Regions from separate parts of the Homo sapiens genome. Here all the other regions are reported to be linked to region 1. The links are microRNA targets in miRTarBase. Many come from high-throughput screens and were not tested one by one. Region 1 holds a microRNA gene; each other region holds the end of a gene's coding sequence.

Region 1 (3,162 bases):
CAGTGCTGTAGAACATTAGAACTTATGCCTTCTAAGTAATTTTTGTATCCTTTAACAAATCTCTCTCTACCCACCCCTTCCCAGCCCCAACCTCCCTTGAGAGGTCACATCTTCCCTTTCTTGATTAATCTGCCCTGGAAACCCAGCTCCACAGGGTGTCATATAGCAACCTGGCTGACATTAGATTTCCAGCATGAGGGGAACGGCCGAGCTGCTGAAGGGCACAGGGGATGAGCTGCTTACGTGGAATTCTTCCATTCTCACCCTCCAAAACAGTGGTGAAACACAGAAACATACAATGACAGCATCACAATAGATCATCTGGAGGCTATGGTAGTAGTAAATATTAATTCAATATTTTCATACAGTAATACATGGTTTTGTGTCCTTGACAATGCCTAGTGATTGTGGATGCTTACTCTAATGCTAACTAAAAAAATAACAAGGGGTTGTTTCAATTACATAGGCAAATAGTAAACGTGTATTTCAAAACTAGTTCCATTATTAGCCCACTAAAATGAATTTAGCAGTTTTCGAAGCATCACAATGAGAAAGTAAAAGACACATTTTTAAGGTAATTTACCTTGGAAACTTAAGTTTATGAGATGAATCTTTCATCAGGTAGGTTAAGCATACCTTTACTGTCTTGATTATTATTTAAGAACTCCAGTTAATTTAATTTCCCCAAATATGCATAAGAGATTTCTGCTTCTCTATTCCAGTGTTGGGAGAGATTTCTTCAAATAAATGAAAATACATTTTCTTACAGCTTTACATTCTTCCTTATACATTTAAATATTGTTTATACTCTTAAATCAATGAGAATTTGTAATAAATATTTCATTTGCTCAAAGTAAAAAATGGAAACACTGATTTACTAAATGATCATTGCTGACTTTTTTTAATCCAAATACTTTTAATTCTCCAAAATTGGAAGGTACCGATGGGAAGCATGTTCACTTTCCAAATGAGAATCGCATGGCATACACACTGTCTTATCTAATTCATCAGGACACCCACCCACTGGCACTGAAAAGCTGTAATCCCAGCAAGCAAGAGCCATACCCGTGTGCATGCACTCATGTGAAAATATCACACACACTAAATTGCATTGAGGCCGTGACAACATGCAACTTAGTAATGTGCAATATCTCCACCAGAGCAAGCAGAATGGGAGCATCAGGGAAGAAGGGTGTGATGTATACATTCAGGAGACAACATGCTGCTGAAGAGAGGAAAATGGTCTGGGGATAAAGGATGCATGCCACTGACTCAAAACTTCATGAAATGAAAACCCAATTGCAAATGTATTCAACTGAGAAGAATACTTATTCAGAATCAAAATAATGAGTAAGGTTCAAAACTTCAATGAGATAGTGATCATAAAGAAACCACATACTTCAGAAGGCAAAGCTTCACGAACAGACACTATCACTGTCTGGTCATGCAATTAACCCCCAATTTCAATTCCATTTTTGACTTATTCACAGATCATATAAATGAATGTAATGATTTCCACTTAGCTGCAACATAGATGATGATTAATGACTGATGCTTATAAAAGTTGGTATCACTGATATTTGTAGGCTAAACTGCACTTTGAGGACATTACAATATTTTCATAGTCATTCATAAATTATAAATAACCACTTATTTTTCCCTCAAAATCTTTTTCCATGAAGAAACATATTGCCTCTTCAACACAAACCTTCAGGATGAAAAATCCAACAGGAGCTCTTAGAAAGAGAACTCACTACCATCTTCTCCACAGGAGAAAGCTCTTCAGAGGAATCTCTGTAAAATCTGTACATTTTAAGTCTTGAATTTGAGCCAGTAAAGAAACAGCCCTAGGAACTTAAACTGCAAAAAAAACACCTTGAATTATAGCCTTAAAATTACATAACTTGATATAGCTTTGGTTAGAAAAATGTCTCAGGCCATAACCCATTCTTTAGTCTGTACCATATTTATCAGACTCATAAAAATCTATCAATTCTGAGAACCATTAGATTATAGTTCTGGTACCAAAGGTTGTTAAAATTTTTTCTGTATTTAAAATAAGGTGATAATAAAACAAATGGTTTTTAAATGCCAGTATACTATGGAACCAAGACATAAGCTACTGTTATAATACATAATTAGTGTATGCACTCCCAAGAAGGGAAGTCGAATCTAATTTGTAAAAGACTGATTTCCTCATATCGCTGTAGATGACAGCACTCTTTGTAATCTCAAATTCTCTCCTGAGCCAAAGACCTGAATTTCTAAATGCCACCCTCTTATGTCCACAAATATAAGTCATGATCTTCCCTAACCAGCTCCTCTTGAAAGAAGGCATCATGGTGTAACAGAGTATGTGCTTTCAATCAGCTGAACCTAGGTGTGACTAACAGCTTTACTTACCACTGACTGGCAAACACAACAGCTAGGAATTAAGTTTAAAACAAAAAAGGTGGCATATTTGGTATGAAAAAAGGTGACAGACATTTAGAGGATGGTCTGCTGTAAGAAAGCAGAACAAGAGAAAATTCAAAAGCTGTGATGTGAAAATAGAAACATTTTTCTAAGAATAAGAGTCAGTAACAATGAAGATTACTTGAGGAAAATGGAAGCATCATCTTTCTTGAAGTTCTTTATGAACAAGGTAGATATTTTTCTGCAAAGCTTGGCTTAAGCCACACTGACTGGAGAATTCCTACCAGCCTTTGATATGGCTGCTACAATAAATAGCTTTACCCCACTGGGAAGATAAAAGATTAGCCTTCCTTTTTGGTAGAGCATTTGCAAAAGCTTTTCTGAGTCAGAAAGATATCACCTAGATAAACAAAAGATTATCTATTGCTAGAATTTTCATCATTTCATTTATTCAGCAAAGATGATAGTCAATGGTCATATAGGACTTAGGAGGGAAGCTATAGCTGGTACTTCCTTCGAAACAGCTTCACCCCAATTGCTGTTACACTGGATAATATACTCCCAAATCTGGAATCTTTATAGATGGCCCCTGTGTGGATACCTGAGGACACTATACAGGTGTTAAGAGCATTTTTTTTAATCCCACTTGACAGCCAATCGCGGAAACAAGGTATTGGTGAAGATCTTACCCAGGCCTTGCTAGTAGGAAAAGGGGAGAGAACTTAGCAAAAGTTCTACAGACATTGT
Region 2 (3,000 bases), not on the chromosome of region 1:
CAATACTAAAAACATTTAAGAAGTCCTTCCAGATTATTTTTTTGACATGAGGTAAAGTATTTACTAGAAGTTTTTTAACTTATGAAATAACATTTTCTAATGTCCTCACCTTATGAATTGTGATATTTGTAATCTAGTTAGCTGAACAATTCTAGACCAGTCCTTGGGAGTCTGATCTGGGTTGGATGATAGATGGACTCGATTCCCCACTCCCTCTCTGTATTGCAGGGAGATTCACATGAAGGTGAAATTAAGAAATTGAATGCTATTTGTATTTTTTCCAAAAACAGGAAAAAATGAATTCCATTCATATTGGTAAATTTTTGTTTTATTGTTTTTCCAATCTAGATTAAAGAGTCTATTGTTGGGGAAATCAGACGGGAAATTGTAAGTGGACTTTTGGCAGCAGTATCTTCAAGTAAAGCGTCTAATTCTAAGCAAGATTATCATTAAACAGAAATTATAGGTAAATTTTTCTGAGTTTCTTTGTTGAGCTAAATGTAAATAGTAACTGGCATTTTATTCTTTGTTTTGTTAGTATACAGGTTTGGTTCTCTAGTTAAATTTTGAGTTTTAGAATGTATGTAATATGTTATTTTACAATGTGAAAATTTCACACAAGCCTATTTGAAGTGTAAGTCAAATCCCATAATACAAATCTCCAAGGAATTACTTATATTGGGTCATTCTACTGAAATTTCATTATAGTAATAAATCCTGGAATTGGACCTTCAAACCTGAATCTTATTTTGATTATAATGGTATTTCAGATGTATAGTTTTAAAGAACAAGATTTTGTGAATTAATCACAACTTCCTTTTTTTTTTTTTTGAGACAGAGTCTCGCTCTGTCGCCCAGGCTGGAGTGCAGTGGCGGGATCTCGGCTCACTGCAAGCTCCGCCTCCCGGGTTCACGCCATTCTCCTGCCTCAGCCTCCCAAGTAGCTGGGACTACAGGCGCCAGCCACTACGCCCGGCTAATTTTTTGTATTTTTTAGTAGAGACGGGGTTTCACCGTTTTAGCCGGGATGGTCTCGATCTCCTGACCTCGTGATCCGCCCGCCTCGGCCTCCCAAAGTGCTGGGATTACAGGCGTGAGCCACCGCGCCCGGCCGAATTAATCACAACTTCTAAGTATCTTTCCTAATTATTTTTATCTTTTAAAGAAACATATCCCATAGATTCATTTCTAATAATAATTTATTTCAAAAAACTCTTTTATATGTCTGTCTTAGTAAAACGAATTACTTTCATTTTATCTCGTAGCTCTAATTACATTAAAAAATTTTTTTGTAGAGATGGGGTCTTGCTATGTTGCCCACGCTAGTCTTAAACTCCTAGCCTCAAGCGATCCTCCTGCTTTAGCTCTAACTTCATTTTATATAATATATATTAATAATAATTCTTGGTGAATGCAAAAAGAAAGAATAAGTTGAGTAGAATAGAACTAAAAATATTCATTGAATAAGACATGAGAAACAAATGTAATTTGAAAAGTATAATATACAATTTCAGATATAGGAAATTGGAAAGTATTTTAATAAATTATGTCACAAAGCAATTAATAGGAATTATTTTTTTTAAAGCCAGGGATATAAGAATTAACTCTCAGGAAGATGTATAGAGATTACAGGATAATCATGTTTCTGTGTATATATATTTGCATAAAATTCTCATCTTCCTTTAAAGAAGCTTTTAATAACAGTATTTGAAAGAGGTTTAAAACTGACTTCTCTTTTCTTTTTTAAGGTTGGCATGGATCCTATTAGCTGTGTAATACTGGAATTATCAATGATATGCACTGGTGGAGGTGTTATTTGTGCTTTAGAAGATACTTGCTGTTGAGCTGGGCTACTGTATACAGTGTACAATGTGTATTTCTTCAACCATATATTTTAAAAAGACGTACATAGAAACTTAGGCACTTTGCTATTTCTTTTCTAAACTATCAAAAACTCTAGCAGTTTGAAAAGCCTAATATTTATTTGTATGTCAGTATTTTTCATTTGATTCCCTATTAGAATTAATTTTAAAACTTGAAGACTTCCAGACTTATCCAACTTATAAATAACATATTTCTTCAGACTAACATCTTAAAACACTGACCTCTATGAGGTATTTACTGTGCAATAACTGATTCATTTTTTTCAGAGCTTGAAGCATCCAATGATTTTTCCCTCCACTGCTGTTAATTAATGTCACTTCCAAGAAGAAAAACTGTTCTGTTGTAAAAAATATAATTGCTCTTAATTCTTGGGGAGGTTACTAATAGCAGTAGGATAGAATTTTATGAGGTTACCTACAACTACTTAATGTACTTACACTGTAAGCCTTGTTGCTTTACCCAAGACAAATGTAATTTTATCATTGCTTATGTAGTATTTTTCTTTTGGAAATGTGCCTTATGTTAAACACTATGTACTTTTACTTTTTGCATTGTCCAGACTTCTTTATTAGATGGAGATGTTTCTTTTTCTGTCTTCTAGACTAAATAGAGTATCATCCAAATAATGGGGCCTATGACTTGAATGAATAGAAATGAATAAGCTGGTGTTTGTTTTTTCAAAATGGAAGTAATTTAGATTTGTTCTCCTCATACATAAAATGATTTTAGTTCAGTTTTAACCAGTGAAAACTTTGTTTTTATGAAAAAAAAGGAAAATGGTTTCCCATTTGGTTTTATATGTGTTAAATAAATGTGTAAAGTAACCACCAAATGTTATTAGAATTTTTCTTCTAGCATTTATAATTTTTTCAACTCCTATTGTGTTTCTTTGTGTGTGATATTTTAATCAAAAGTGGTTGAGTTGTTAACAGTGTTCTTTGAAAGAATCTCTAAAAGGCTTATAAATGTTTGAAATATCACACAAAGGCTGATTTCTAAAATATATATATATTAAAACAATAAAGTATTTATTTTGCCTAAAGTGTTTTAGTGGTTTCTTAAACTGCAACATGAAGATTTTGAATTAGATTTGATAGGTAACAAATGAGGTCCAAA
Region 3 (3,162 bases), not on the chromosome of region 1:
TGAGGGGAAAGACTGAACACAGAACAGCATTAGGTAAACCAATTGTAGAATGTTTGCATTGATATGAAGTGAGGTAATGGCCTGGTTAACCAATTATTTTTTTAATACTTCCTTTTGTAGGAAGAAGATTTTCAAGAAATGATTAAATCTGCACAGATAATGGAAAGTCAATATGGTCATCTTTTTGACAAAATTATAATAAATGATGACCTCACTGTGGCATTCAATGAGCTCAAAACAACTTTTGACAAATTAGAGACAGAGACCCATTGGGTGCCAGTGAGCTGGTTACATTCATAACTAAGAGAAATTTCCATAATTGTCTTTTTCTATAGAGTGCATGATGAAATCAATTACAGTTTTGGTAGTAGGGTTTTTAAATCTATATCACTGTCATAGATGTACAATCTTGGTTCAAGTTGAATGCTGGTTTTGTTTGTATCTTTTTACAGCCTTATTTCAAACGCCATGTGTTAGTATAAGATCCGAAATCAAAATATGCACAGTACTGTATTCTAAGCAAAACCTCAAACCTTCTCGTTGTCTTCAATACCGCTCTATCTCCAAGATGAGGCTGAAATTTTCAGAGAGACTTAGCTAGAGGCTTAGTATGTATGGGAGTTCAGCGCTTCTGCTGGTCTCAGGTGTGGCTGCTGCTGTCGAGTTTGAATGTTAGCTGTTGAAGGTATCAATTCAGCAGCCATGAGCAGCTCCAGACAGACAGGTGAGCTCTGCTGTTTCTGGGTGGATCATCACAGATTTAGCCGGGCAGGCAGTAAGGTGTCCTCTTACTATTCAAAAAGTGTAGACTTTCTTACATATTCGCAATACGTTCACAGTGTGTGCATTTTAAAATAATTCTTAAAGGAGTAACTGAAATTTTACCTTGAGTGAATGGCCTTCATAATATAGCTTGAGAAGTCCTTTTGAGTACCTGTCAGTGACTCAACAACATTTAATAAGGGAAAGTAGACTTTTAACAGTTATTATATATGTAACGAAAAGCCTTTCCTTTGGGATTAATATAAGTAAGAATGGTAGCCTTGTGGCAAGAAATGATTACAAAGGATATTTTTATTTGTAATTCCTCAGAAGACAATTTATGAAGTCACCCAAAATGTTATTTTAGCTGGTTTTGGATTTTTCCAATAAATTAGAAGAAGGATTTCTATTCTAAAACATGTAAAACCTGTTTTACATATTACTGATACAATTAAAGATTATTTTTCATCTATGTGCAATAGATCACCCCTCTTTAAATTGCTCTAAGATTTATTTTAGAAAACTTTTCATGTGATGTTATTTCTTTGTCATCAAAATGCTTGTTAACACTGTCCAGACACCATCCTAACCTTGCCATTGTTAAAGAAGTTTAGGAAAGACTCTTATATTGTAAATATTTAGATGGGTTCTCTCACTTTTCTTTGATACTACTGATTTTCAGCAAGTGAATTATATAATTCAAAATGCTAGAAATGTCTATCCGTTCTATAAGAGAGCATATCCTGCCGTTCTTGCATGCAGTGAAGCCCTGCCCGTCGAAAATCATTGCATCTGTGACTTTCAAAGTGGAAAAAAAAATGTTATTTTTTTGTTGATTTGTAAAGAGAGTTTAAATGTCATGTGAAAAAAAATAGAATGTAGTAAAATTCTATATATTTATGAAATATTTTAAAGGCATATTTTTTTAAATATCAAACGGGGCTATTCATAAAATAAACTGATTGTATGTCAAGATGTCCTAATTTAAAAGAGTAGTTTTATAAATCATGGTCAACATTCCATGTAAATATTTGAGCTTTACAAAGATAGATCCAAGTGTGCGATCTGTGCACTGCACATTTGATAGCATTATTCACTGGTTTTCCTTCATACTTGTCAAGTTCATATTAGAAGCAGAGACAAAAACCACTCCAATGGCCTTGACACATAGTCACACCAAAATAGATAATCAGACTAAGTATTATATAACAACGTGATCCAGACAGTGAGTTCTAAGTGTATTAATTAAATAGCAAAAAATTTTGTTTTTAAAAAATGAAAGAGGGAGGGTTGCCAACCTGAAGTCTTAAGTAGATTGTTTGGGTAGCATATTTCCTTCTTTGAACATTGTCTGAAATTTTCTATAAATCAAGACTTCTTGTACAAAGAATGATGGGACATATGTAATAATTCAGGCAATCACCTGAGTAATTTAGGCAGTCCAAATTCTTTACCCTGAAATACCCACATTTTAAAAAAATTGCAGATAATTGCTTCAGTTATTTACTTTGGGGACAGAGATATAGTGTAAAGTGGGAGAAACTGAGTCCTTTTTTGGTGGTGGTAATAATAAGATGTTATAAAAATATAACATTTTAAAAAAGAAAGGTCCAGACCTTAAGCGCAGAGCTAGAACAATATTTTTTAAATAATGGGGGGAAAAGGGGGCACTTTGGTAATTTTAGAAATCAGGTAGTATACTTTTTTTTTTTTTTTTGAGACAGGGTCTTGCCATGTTGCTCAGGCTGGTCTTGAACTCCTGGGCTCAAGCAATCCTCCTGCCTTGGCCTCCCAAAGTGCTGGGATTACAGGCATGATCCACCGTGCCCAGCCGGTAGACGTGGTCTTAAAAACAGTGTTTACATGGCCATCTTGATGCTTAGAAAGATAATTGATTAAAATTTAATAAGGCAGGGCCAACTCCGAGAGTTCATTGACAACGGCAGCAAAAAGGCCCTGAATTCTGTACTTTCTTCCCCCAGCCTCCTTCTCCAGCAAGGAGAATAGCACTCCTCCCTCCAGAAGCCAGCTCCCTAAGTTGGAGCCACTATGTAAGAGAAGAGGAACGTTCACTTTTTAAAATTCATATATTTAAAAATCAAGACCAAAAAGTAAATTCTGTACTCCTATTATTGACTGTAGTCAATCAAACATAAAAAGGTGAAAGTAAAATTTAATTTTTTACCCTTATTTTACTGACCAATATGGAAGTTCTTGGTATCTTTAAGGCTGACCTTCCTGGTATTGTGTAATGATTGAATGTATCTAAACTGTAATAATTTGAAACTGACAAACATAACCTTCTCAGACTTACAAAACTATGTTCTTTCTAAAGATACAGATTTTTATTATTTTATTTTGACTAGGAAGGATTTATAAATAAATGTAATGAAAAATCTT
Region 4 (3,162 bases), not on the chromosome of region 1:
CCTGAATCTTTGGAAGTTTTTCTTCTTTTTAAATAATTATTAATGAGGCATACATGGTTCTGCAACTGGTGTTCCAAGTAATGCATACATCAGAACAACTTTTACATGAAGAAGGCTGCAAAAAAGTACTGTGTCCAGCCCACCAATATGAACAGTGAAAAAGGGGACAAATCAGGAGTGTGCCATTACTATTTGCCAATAATTATTAGTTGAAGAATTGCATTAGTGATACTTAGATAGTATCTCTTTTTAAAAAATGGGAAACAGCAAGGAGGGGATGGATTGAACATGAAAAACTAGGAGCTGTGACAATAAAGGTCAAGAAATGATCCTGAGACAGAAGCTGATCATAAACACAGGAGCAGCAGCAGCCACTACATCACATTTTGGAGTTTCTAATAATTTTCCTAAATTAAACTTTATGACCAGACAACTAATGGCAAACTGCCAATAAGACAATATATTTTATAGCATTTTAGTCATAGATAAGCATATGCTTTTATGAATCTTAATATTATGGTAGAATACTACATAAGATATAAATACTAAAGTTTTGAAAATAAATGTACTAAATCATAGTTTTAAAATAAAGATTTCCTAGGCCAGGTGTGATGGCTCATGCCTATAATCCCAGCACTTTGGGAGGCCAAGGTGTGCGGATCACCTGAGGTCAGGAGTTTGAGACCAGCCTGGCCAACATGGCAAAAACCTGTCTCTACTAAAAATATACAAATTAGCCAGGTGTGATGGTGCACACCTGTAATCCCAGCTACTCAGGAGGCTGAGGCAGGAGAATCACTTGAGCCTGGGAGGCAGATGTTGCAGTGAGCCAAGATCGTGCCACTGCACTCCAGCCTGGGTGACAGAGCAAGACTCCATCTCAAAAAATAAAAATAAAAAAATAAAGATTTTCTATTTAGAATTTCATTAACTTATACAGTACCTTTTAATCAAAGTACAACACATATGCATATATTTTAAAATTAAGTATAACTTAGCTGTCTTGAACATCTAAATATACCCCAGAAAGTGCTGAGGTTACAGGTATGAGCCACTGCACCCAGCCTACTCCATATCTATTAACGTAAACCAATTCAAATCTTTCTTACAAGTGGATAGGTTATAAAAAGAACTAAATACACATAAGTAATCCAAGACACTACAAATCACACTGAAACACATCTTTTTATTATATACTAAATTTAAAAATACAAATCTTATTAAAAATGCTTATCAAACATTGTATACATAAGTACTGTCAAATACTATTGGGTTTTGACATTATGTACATTTGCTAAGGTTAATTAGAAACAGAACAACGTAATATCACTTTGCTGACACTGAATTTCAGCAGTTAAGTGTTTTAAAATTTGGCAACTATGAAGTAGTGATCTGCACAGGAAGATGTTTGGAGAGGTAAAATAATAAGAAAACAAACGGAATAATGCAGACATTTCTGCAGTAAGTGTTAATAAGTAGATTTCTTCCTCATCCTCTTAACTCATTGTAACAGAAATTAAAGTGCACAAGACCACCAGGAATACCTGATTTGGTGTACCCTAAATATACACTACAGCCGGCTGTGCTGCCATATTGAGGGTTTCAATTCTTTGTACTGTTCCTGAGGTTTTGGAAGTTAATTTTGAATGTGGCTAGCGGAAGGGAGGCCAACACTTTCTAAATTGCACCAAATGGCCTTAAAGTGTAGAAATACCAAAGAAAAAAATATTAATTTGGAAATAGATTCAAGGAAATAATCCCTGTCTACTTTGCCCTAGGAATAAAATTAGAATAAGGACACAGTTTTACCTCTGGAAAATGCTTACTAAAATCTGTTTCAAAAGACCAGACATGTACAGCAAGCACAATACTGTCAGTTATTGTTCACCACTTATATACTGCATCATAAATACCAGGTATAAATACCTGCCGCTAAAGGGTCACTAGAAATACAGGTAGAAGCATGTTATCACTTTACACTAATTTTACTCATTAGGTATAATTTGTAAAAATAGGTCACCACCCCACCATACAATCAAGAAAGAGGAAAAGAAAAGTTGCTATTCTACAAAAGTGCTCCTTTTAGCTTTCAACCCCAATAGCTTAATTTTGGGTAAAACAAGATTGTAAGGTATGGCCATCAGTTCTAAATAAGCTGATGATGCCATATATACATCCTCATATATATATATGTTTAAATTTCAGTTCTGGTTTAACACTAATGTACTAGTACAAACCATTTATAGGAAACATTCTATCGGCCTTATTTACAAACACACAATGAATGACAAAGATATGGAAAATTTTAAAAATTGCAGATAAATGTAGTCATAGTTTACTAAAGATAAGACAAATTTGCATAACTTTTTTTAAAACCAAAGAAAAATGTTTAGAAAGAAACCCCTACCATATACAGAATACCTATTGGTCATCGGACCTAAGAGGCAAATCAACGTAAGGATCGTGATAAAATTTTTATTACTGTTTCTTTTAATAACATATCAATGAGATCTATTTAGAGTACTACCTACAAATACACATTCTCTCATGATTCAGTGAGAATATTAAGTTATTGAATACATTTTTTTACTCTCATGGCACTTACATTTGGTAACACTAATAAGGTAAATTTAGATAACACTTAAATCATGATTATGAATGTTTAATTGAATATTTTCCTTTCTGTAGCTGTGAAATGTAAAGCTTAGATTTGCTTCCATCAGGCCTCTTAAACCAAACTTCATCATGGTTAATTGTTGTAATTACAGCACTAAAAAGAAAAAAAAAAGAATGAATGAATGAATTACAATGTCTCCTCAATTCACTTTAGATTATTACCTATATAAAACCAAAATAAACTGGCCTACAACAGTAGACTCAGGTATATAATTGTCATTTACCAGAATGCTGCATATCAGCAGTACATGCTGCCAAAAATATCACATTCAGCAACACAGCAGATCATCCTTCTTTTCTTAATAGAGTTCGTAAAATTTACTTTCTATTAGAACTATTAAAAGCACATTCTTCCTACTCCATCCCCACCCCACCTCTTTAAAAAAAAAAAAAAAAACTGGAGCTAAAAGCGCTATGTATATGGTATTATACTTGTAACTCATGTCAGTATCTTTCAAATGCTAATCTCTAATTCCTAATGTCAAA
Region 5 (3,000 bases), not on the chromosome of region 1:
GGTTCTCTTTTCCTTTGTCTGTAAGTGCCCTCATTCTGTGACTTTATTTGCAGTGACCTGTGCAGTGGTCCAGAAGAGCGCATATGGCTTTCACACAGCCAGCTCCTGTTTTTGGGATACCACATCTGATGGTAAGAGATCTTAAGCTGATTTACACAAAATCCAACTTTTAGCAAAGTCAAACTGCACTTTTTAACCAAGTACTTATTTAATTCTGATTAAATTCTGAAAAGACTATCAACAGTATTGCTTTGTACCTAGTAACAAGTATACCTTCAGACCGATATGAAATGTGAAAACTTAACAGGTTGAAGGAAATAAGATATTAAAACATGTGAAAAATGTATGTGTATATATATATATATATATGTGTGTGTGTGTGTGTGTGTGTGTGTGTGTGTGTGTGTATATGTGTGTGTGTGTGTGTGTGTGTGTATATATATATATATATTCTCTGATAATTTTTATGTTTTGCTGGTATTTCAAAATCCTTTTTTTGTGTTTCAGGAACCTGTACCGTAAGATGGGAGAACCGGACCATGAACTGTATTGTCAACGTTTTTGCCATTGCTATTGTTCTTTAACTGACTAAAAATGTTGGGCTAAAGCCATTAACTTAAGAATTTGTCAGTGTATCCTTTCCAAAAAGAGTAATAGTTGTTTACTAGTGTGCTAGATGAAAAGCGTGCAATATGCTTTAAAGCTATCAACAAAAACTGAATATTATAAGCAAGCAATATCATAGTAATTGGCAGATTAGCTCATATTCTATACAGCATCGTTTAAATAGGAAAAATTTAATGCTAGCAAAAAATAAATTTAGAAATATGGCATGACATGAAAATACAATCTTATATTTACACCAGCTTTTCACTAATATTTTGTACCTAAGGTGATGGGGAACTCCATTCAGATAATAAAATTCTCTTTCAGCTAGAGAAGTTAACAGGAATAAATATATGAACAAAAAAGCTGCAAGGATAAATGTGGAGAAAATGATGAGAATTAGCTAACATTTTTAAGTTTTTTTAAACTTTCTTCCCCTCAGTTGTACTTAATATTTAGTGGAAAGTAATAATTTTTTTAATTTTCTATCAACTAATAGTATAGTAACAACTATGATTAACTTGTTTACTTTTTCTGAGGATTAGTAAATCAATTTTTTTTAATTTCAAATTTTTGGATTTACACTTGAGGGTAAATTAAATCTGGTAAACTGAATTTCCTAGTTAAATAAAATTAGTTGCAGTATATGATGAACAGTGTATGACTCAAACAGCTGCCTTACAATTCACTCATTCCATGTGGAACAAACATTTATCAGATGCCTATTATGGGCATATGTCTCTGCTAAGCACCATAGTTGTCAATGTGCTGTGCAAATGCTAAGTTCCTTTTAGCAATTGTTCAGTTGGAAGACGTATTAATATTTGGGGAAGGAAAAGAAAGTAGTTGTTTTACAAGGGAGGAAAAAAGTGAATCTGGTTACACATATGGAAGTAAGCAAAATGAAAAGCACTTATTGCTTTCTGACAGAATTATAGATGTAATTTTAAGAGTTGCTCCTAGCAAGTTAAAAGTGCATATAAAATATGCAACTCTTAGTTAAAGGCCTTATTATCAGTCTTACCTATACAAGTAGTAAATTTTGTCATTGCTTTAGTTACAACCATCTGTAAATAACTTAAAAGACTTATTATGTGGGGTTCAAATTGAGTGGAATAAAGTATAGATTAAAAGTATACAATCCTTAGCACGTTATCTCAGGGCTTATGAAATGTAATTAAATTTATTAAGAAAATAGATGAAAAATTAGGGTACACAGCTGGCCACCAAATGCGAAGTCAATCTGCTACTTAACCCTGAAAACAAAATCAGTTTTGCATATTACCACTAACACTAATACATATAGAGAGCGGAACCATAACTCATTGAATTTTGGAGAGGAATAAGCTTAGCGTTAATATTGACAATATTAAGGCAATATTCTTGTAGGAATACTATGTGCATGTTTGATATTTTGCCAAATAACAATAATTAATAATTGTTCAATGTTTAAGAATAATATTAACAAAATAAAGGAGTTTAATGCAGTGATCTTTGTTTTTGGCACATCAAAAATTCTCAGTCATTATTCATGTTTCTTTATGCTGCTGGCTTTTGTGCCCTGGAAGATCATAATAGTGACCAAAATATACATGCAGACTTGTTTTTTATTATTGTTGTTTAAGCATAATTTAAGAAAAAAAATTTTTACCTGGTGAACTTGCTATCTGCTCTGTTTCTAGTTAAAATATAATAAATATTATCTTCCTGTGCTGTACTTTTGCTTCTGGATAATCATTTAATAGTTAGAGAAATGACATTCTGCTTGCTCTTAGAAATTCTAAATAGAAGAAATGCTGGGGGTGGTGGCTCACACCTGTGTAATCCCAGCACTTTGGGAGGCAGGTGGATCATTTGAGGTCAGGAGTTTGAGACAAGCTTGGCCAACACGGTGAGACCGCATCTCTCTTAAAAATACAAAAATTAGCCAGGCGTGGTGGCACACATCTCTAATCCCAGCTACTCAGGAGGCTGAGGCAGGAGAATTGCTTGAACCCGGGAGGCGGAGATCGCAGTGAGCCGAGATCGTGCCACTGCACTCCAACCTGGGCAACAAAACAAGATGCCGTCTCAAAAAAAAAAAAAAAGAAAAAAGAAAGCAATTCTAAATAGGATAAATGAATATGGGACCACATAGATATATTATGCATATTATGCAGAATAAATACCATTAAAATAGCAGCCCAAATCCAGTATTTACCATTACAACATAATTAATAGCTTCTATTTTATGCTTTTTATTTTATGATTTTAACACAAAATTTCATTTTCAAAAATCAGTGTAAAAATATATTCTGTAACTACTAGTTTTTAATGATTATTTTTTGCAAGGGATTTTGTCTTATTTGTCAACTTGCAATTGTGTTGTTGTTTTTAATTAAGGACTTTAAGTTT
Region 6 (3,162 bases), not on the chromosome of region 1:
GCCCCCTCCTCCATACCACCCCAACCCCTGAACTGGGGAGGGGGGGCAGGCTCTTGGTGAGAAGTGGAGCCAGCTGGAAAGGCAGAAGCTTGGCAGACCGAGAAGGGGCTTCCTCTGGACCCTTGTTGGGACAAGAGAGACTGGAGAAGCAAAAGGGCCCGGGAGAAACATTGAGTCCATTTTAGGGAGGGCTGCCTGGATGTGGCCAGGACAGAGGACCGACTGGGCTTTTCTAGGCATGAGTAGGGGAGGCTGAGAGGTGGACAGGATGAAAAGGAGGTTGGGGGTATTGGGATATTTGCAGGAAGAGGTCTCCAGGAGAAATGAGGAGTGGCCGTCACCTCTCTGCCTAAGCCCAAATGACACCTCAGCTGTCCCCTCTGGAGAATGGAAAGTTATAGGACATGGCTGGAGGTCAGGAGACTTGGGCCGCTAATTCAGACACTGACCTGCTCTGGGCTCCTGGGAAGAGGCTGGAGGGGAGACACAGGGAAGAAGGAGGGTGGGGAACACCAGTGGCTTCCCTGTCTGGGCCTCAGTTTCCCAGAAGTATAATGGGGAGGAAACAAGAGCCCAGGCTCTGAGGCCCACTAAGAAATGAAGGGCGGGCGGTGCACTCTGTATCTCAGGACATGAATGCCGGCCTCTCTTTCCTTCCCCAGTACCAGAGCATCTTAGAAAATCACCTCACAGAATCCATCAAGCTCTCGCCAGACCAGTCAAGGAGCAGATGCTGCTGACCTCCAGACGCCTGCTCTGGAAGCCCAGAAACAGAGCCTGCCCCGAGCCTGGTCACCCCAGGCTTGAGAACAGGTGACCATCCCCCTCCAGCCCCACTGCCTGCCCAAGCACAGTGCAGGGGGCCTAAGCTCTGCGGCAGAGCCCTTGACCCTGGTGCTGGGCCCAGAGTCAGAGGGCAGCCCCTGGCTCAGGCTGAGTATAGTGAGAGCGTCTGGATGAAGCCCGGAATGTCAGAGCCAAACCCTGGTCCTGCAGAAGTCACCGTTTCCGCAGTGGCTCCAGCTTTCCCCACCCATCCACCCCTCAAACACTCCCGCTCCAGAACACACATCTCCGCAGACCGGCCACTGATTGGAGTCTGGTTACATCCTCCTGTGGACAGACCTTCCTCACCCGCTCCCACCTCACACCCCTCAGCCACAAGCAAAGCTTTGGACAATGGCACAGCTCAGCCTCCTTCAACGAGCAGACTAAGGAGTAAAGGTCTGGACCCCACATGCTGGGCCCGCCTCAGCTCCTGGCAGAAGCTGTCGTGCCTGAGACCCCCTCTGCTCCCTCCAGGGTAGAAGACTGAGGGAGCACAGGAGAAGCCACAAGGGACCATGGCTCATTCCTCCTTGCTGGGTGCTCAGGCAACTCACATAAATCTCTGAGTCTCAATTTGTTTATCTGTCCTGTGGGGGTGAGATGTGCCTTGCCCCCTGTATCACAGTGTGGTTTTGAGGACCAGAAGCTGTGCTTAAATCCAGTAGCTGTTGTCAATATGCATTTATTTACTTCTTTGACAAGTTTATTTTTGCGTATCTACTATGTACGATGCATTGAAGTCCAGTGACAAACAAAACACAGGGACTCTGCCCTCCTGGAGCCGACATCTGGTGAGGGAGAGACGCAGACTCTAGACAGATATTTCCAAATAGCAGGTAAGTGCTATAAACAAAGGGAAACAGGGTAATGGGATAGAGTGACAGGGGGTGGGATGAGTTGCTATTTTAGATGAAGTGGTCCAGGAGGGCTTCCCTGAGGAGGTGGCATTTGGTCTGAGGGCTAGAGAATGAGAAAGCAGCTGTCACCTGAGAGCTGGAGAAAGAACATTCCAGGGAGAGGGAGCATCAAGACCCAAAGCCCTGAGGCAAAAACAAGCTTGCCATGTTCCAGGAACAGTGAAAGGACATCCATTGACCTAATACTCAAAGCTGCTGTCCCAAAGACAAAGCAAAGGGGACCCAGCTCCCTTGGGTGGCTCCTAGATGCTCTGCTGCCTGACCACCAGAGGGCAGCAGTGCTCCTTCTCTTCCAGGCTGAGCAGAAAGTGGATGCTCATGAAGGTTTTAGGAGCTGGGGTTTTGTCCTTCAGATGCTCAAAGCTTGTTCATGGGCTTGGAGGCATGTTTAGCCCTTTGGGATTTGTAAGGCAGAGAATTCCAATTTCTTAAGCCTAGTAAGAAATGAGCAAAAACTTCAATATATATGACTCAGGCAAGAAATCAGCATCTGTGGCAAATACTAGAATGAAATGCAAGAAAGCTCACTGCAAGGAGTCTCCCTCCCTGCAGATTCCAAGGCTGGAATCTTTTTCTTCTGGCTCCAGGCAGCACAGACAGGGCCTAGCCTGGAGAGGGTGGACAAGATGTCCTCTCAGGGTCTTCAATGGCCAAGTCCATGCCCACTGCAGAATCTTTCTGTCTACCCGTAAGTATCCTTTCCTGAGTTCCAGGCAAAGCTGGGGATGTTAGCCTATGACTGTCATCTGACTTGGAAGGTACACCTAGGGGCCGGGGGGAGGTCAGCAGGGGAGTTTGGGAGCCACTTCTCCCCCCACGTGGCACTGGAGTGTGAACTGGCTCATTCTGGACACCAGCATGGAGCCAGCACGGGAACAGGGGGGCAGCCTAGAGCACAAGCTCTATCTGTGTCCTTCAGAGCTCCTGGGAAACATGATGCGCCCTCATGGGAATGGCATTTTGCATATCACACAGGCTGTCCTGGGAGTCAGGCAGACTGGATTGTCACGTGCGGTGTGCATGCAGCAGCTTGTGCACTGCAGTGGACCTGTGGACCATTTCTAAAGGTGCACAACAAATAATAAATGTGTCCTTCTTTGTTTTTATCTTTTGTGCGACTTAGATTTTATATTTTTAAAAATACATCTACGTGGTTCGATATGAAAAAGATACTAAAGGGCAGACAACTAAAAGTGAACTGAGACTGGCTACATAATTTACAGAACCCGGTGCAAAATGGAGATCCGGGTCTCTTGTTCAGACATTATTGAGTTTCAAGACAGCAACAACAGAGCCTACGATCAAGGATGGGCCCCACTGAGGGCAGGTCACTCATTCATGGAATCAATCCTTAGCAAACAATGAGTCTCAGACACACTGAAGCTAGAATGGAAAAGATTCTGAGTCTGCAAGAGGC

The links. The annotated mature microRNA hsa-miR-32-5p reads UAUUGCACAUUACUAAGUUGCA and lies in region 1 at 1,129-1,150, opposite strand. An mRNA with a match to its seed (bases 2 to 7 or 8) in the 3' UTR can be bound and repressed. Matches are read on the target gene's strand: a 7mer-m8 pairs with bases 2 to 8, a 7mer-A1 pairs with bases 2 to 7 and ends in A, and an 8mer does both.
Region 2: the mRNA of ITPRID2 is a reported target of hsa-miR-32-5p. Seed matches in the 3' UTR shown: 8mer at 2,124-2,131.
Region 3: miRTarBase lists MPP7 as a target of hsa-miR-32-5p. Seed matches in the 3' UTR shown: 8mer at 1,236-1,243.
Region 4: the mRNA of BRMS1L is a reported target of hsa-miR-32-5p. Seed matches in the 3' UTR shown: 7mer-m8 at 1,682-1,688.
Region 5: the mRNA of DYNLT3 is a reported target of hsa-miR-32-5p. Seed matches in the 3' UTR shown: 8mer at 686-693.
Region 6: the mRNA of RAB7B is a reported target of hsa-miR-32-5p. The part of its 3' UTR that is shown has no 7-base or 8-base seed match.

Annotation. Positions count from the first base shown.
Region 1 is chr9:109,045,144-109,048,305 of GRCh38, forward strand. It overlaps MIR32 (microRNA 32), which reads right to left and starts at 1,155; the gene lies at 1,086-1,155. All of the region lies in intron 14 of TMEM245 (transmembrane protein 245), which reads right to left.
Region 2 is chr2:181,927,813-181,930,812 of GRCh38, forward strand. It overlaps ITPRID2 (ITPR interacting domain containing 2), which reads left to right. Exons shown (of 18, transcript NM_001130445.3): 17 at 349-466; 18 at 1,749-2,926. The coding sequence ends at 453. Among named protein-coding and RNA genes, the nearest start is that of ITPRID2, 38 kb to the left of the region's middle.
Region 3 is chr10:28,051,203-28,054,364 of GRCh38, reverse strand. It overlaps MPP7 (MAGUK p55 scaffold protein 7), which reads left to right. Exons shown (of 17, transcript NM_001318170.2): 17 at 121-3,162. The coding sequence ends at 300. Among named protein-coding and RNA genes, the nearest start is that of SNORD130, 21 kb to the left of the region's middle.
Region 4 is chr14:35,869,968-35,873,129 of GRCh38, reverse strand. BRMS1L (BRMS1 like transcriptional repressor) reads right to left here. Exons shown (of 10, transcript NM_032352.4): 10 at 1,167-2,770. The coding sequence ends at 2,653. Among named protein-coding and RNA genes, the nearest start is that of BRMS1L, 45 kb to the right of the region's middle.
Region 5 is chrX:37,838,159-37,841,158 of GRCh38, reverse strand. DYNLT3 (dynein light chain Tctex-type 3) reads left to right here. Exons shown (of 5, transcript NM_006520.3): 4 at 54-131; 5 at 508-2,323. The coding sequence ends at 584. Among named protein-coding and RNA genes, the nearest start is that of DYNLT3, 7.9 kb to the left of the region's middle.
Region 6 is chr1:205,976,429-205,979,590 of GRCh38, reverse strand. It overlaps RAB7B (RAB7B, member RAS oncogene family), which reads left to right. Exons shown (of 6, transcript NM_001164522.3): 6 at 663-2,851. The coding sequence ends at 740. It overlaps SLC26A9-AS1 (SLC26A9 and RAB7B antisense RNA 1), which reads right to left. Exons shown (of 4, transcript NR_110984.1): 4 at 1,496-3,162. Among named protein-coding and RNA genes, the nearest start is that of RAB7B, 25 kb to the left of the region's middle.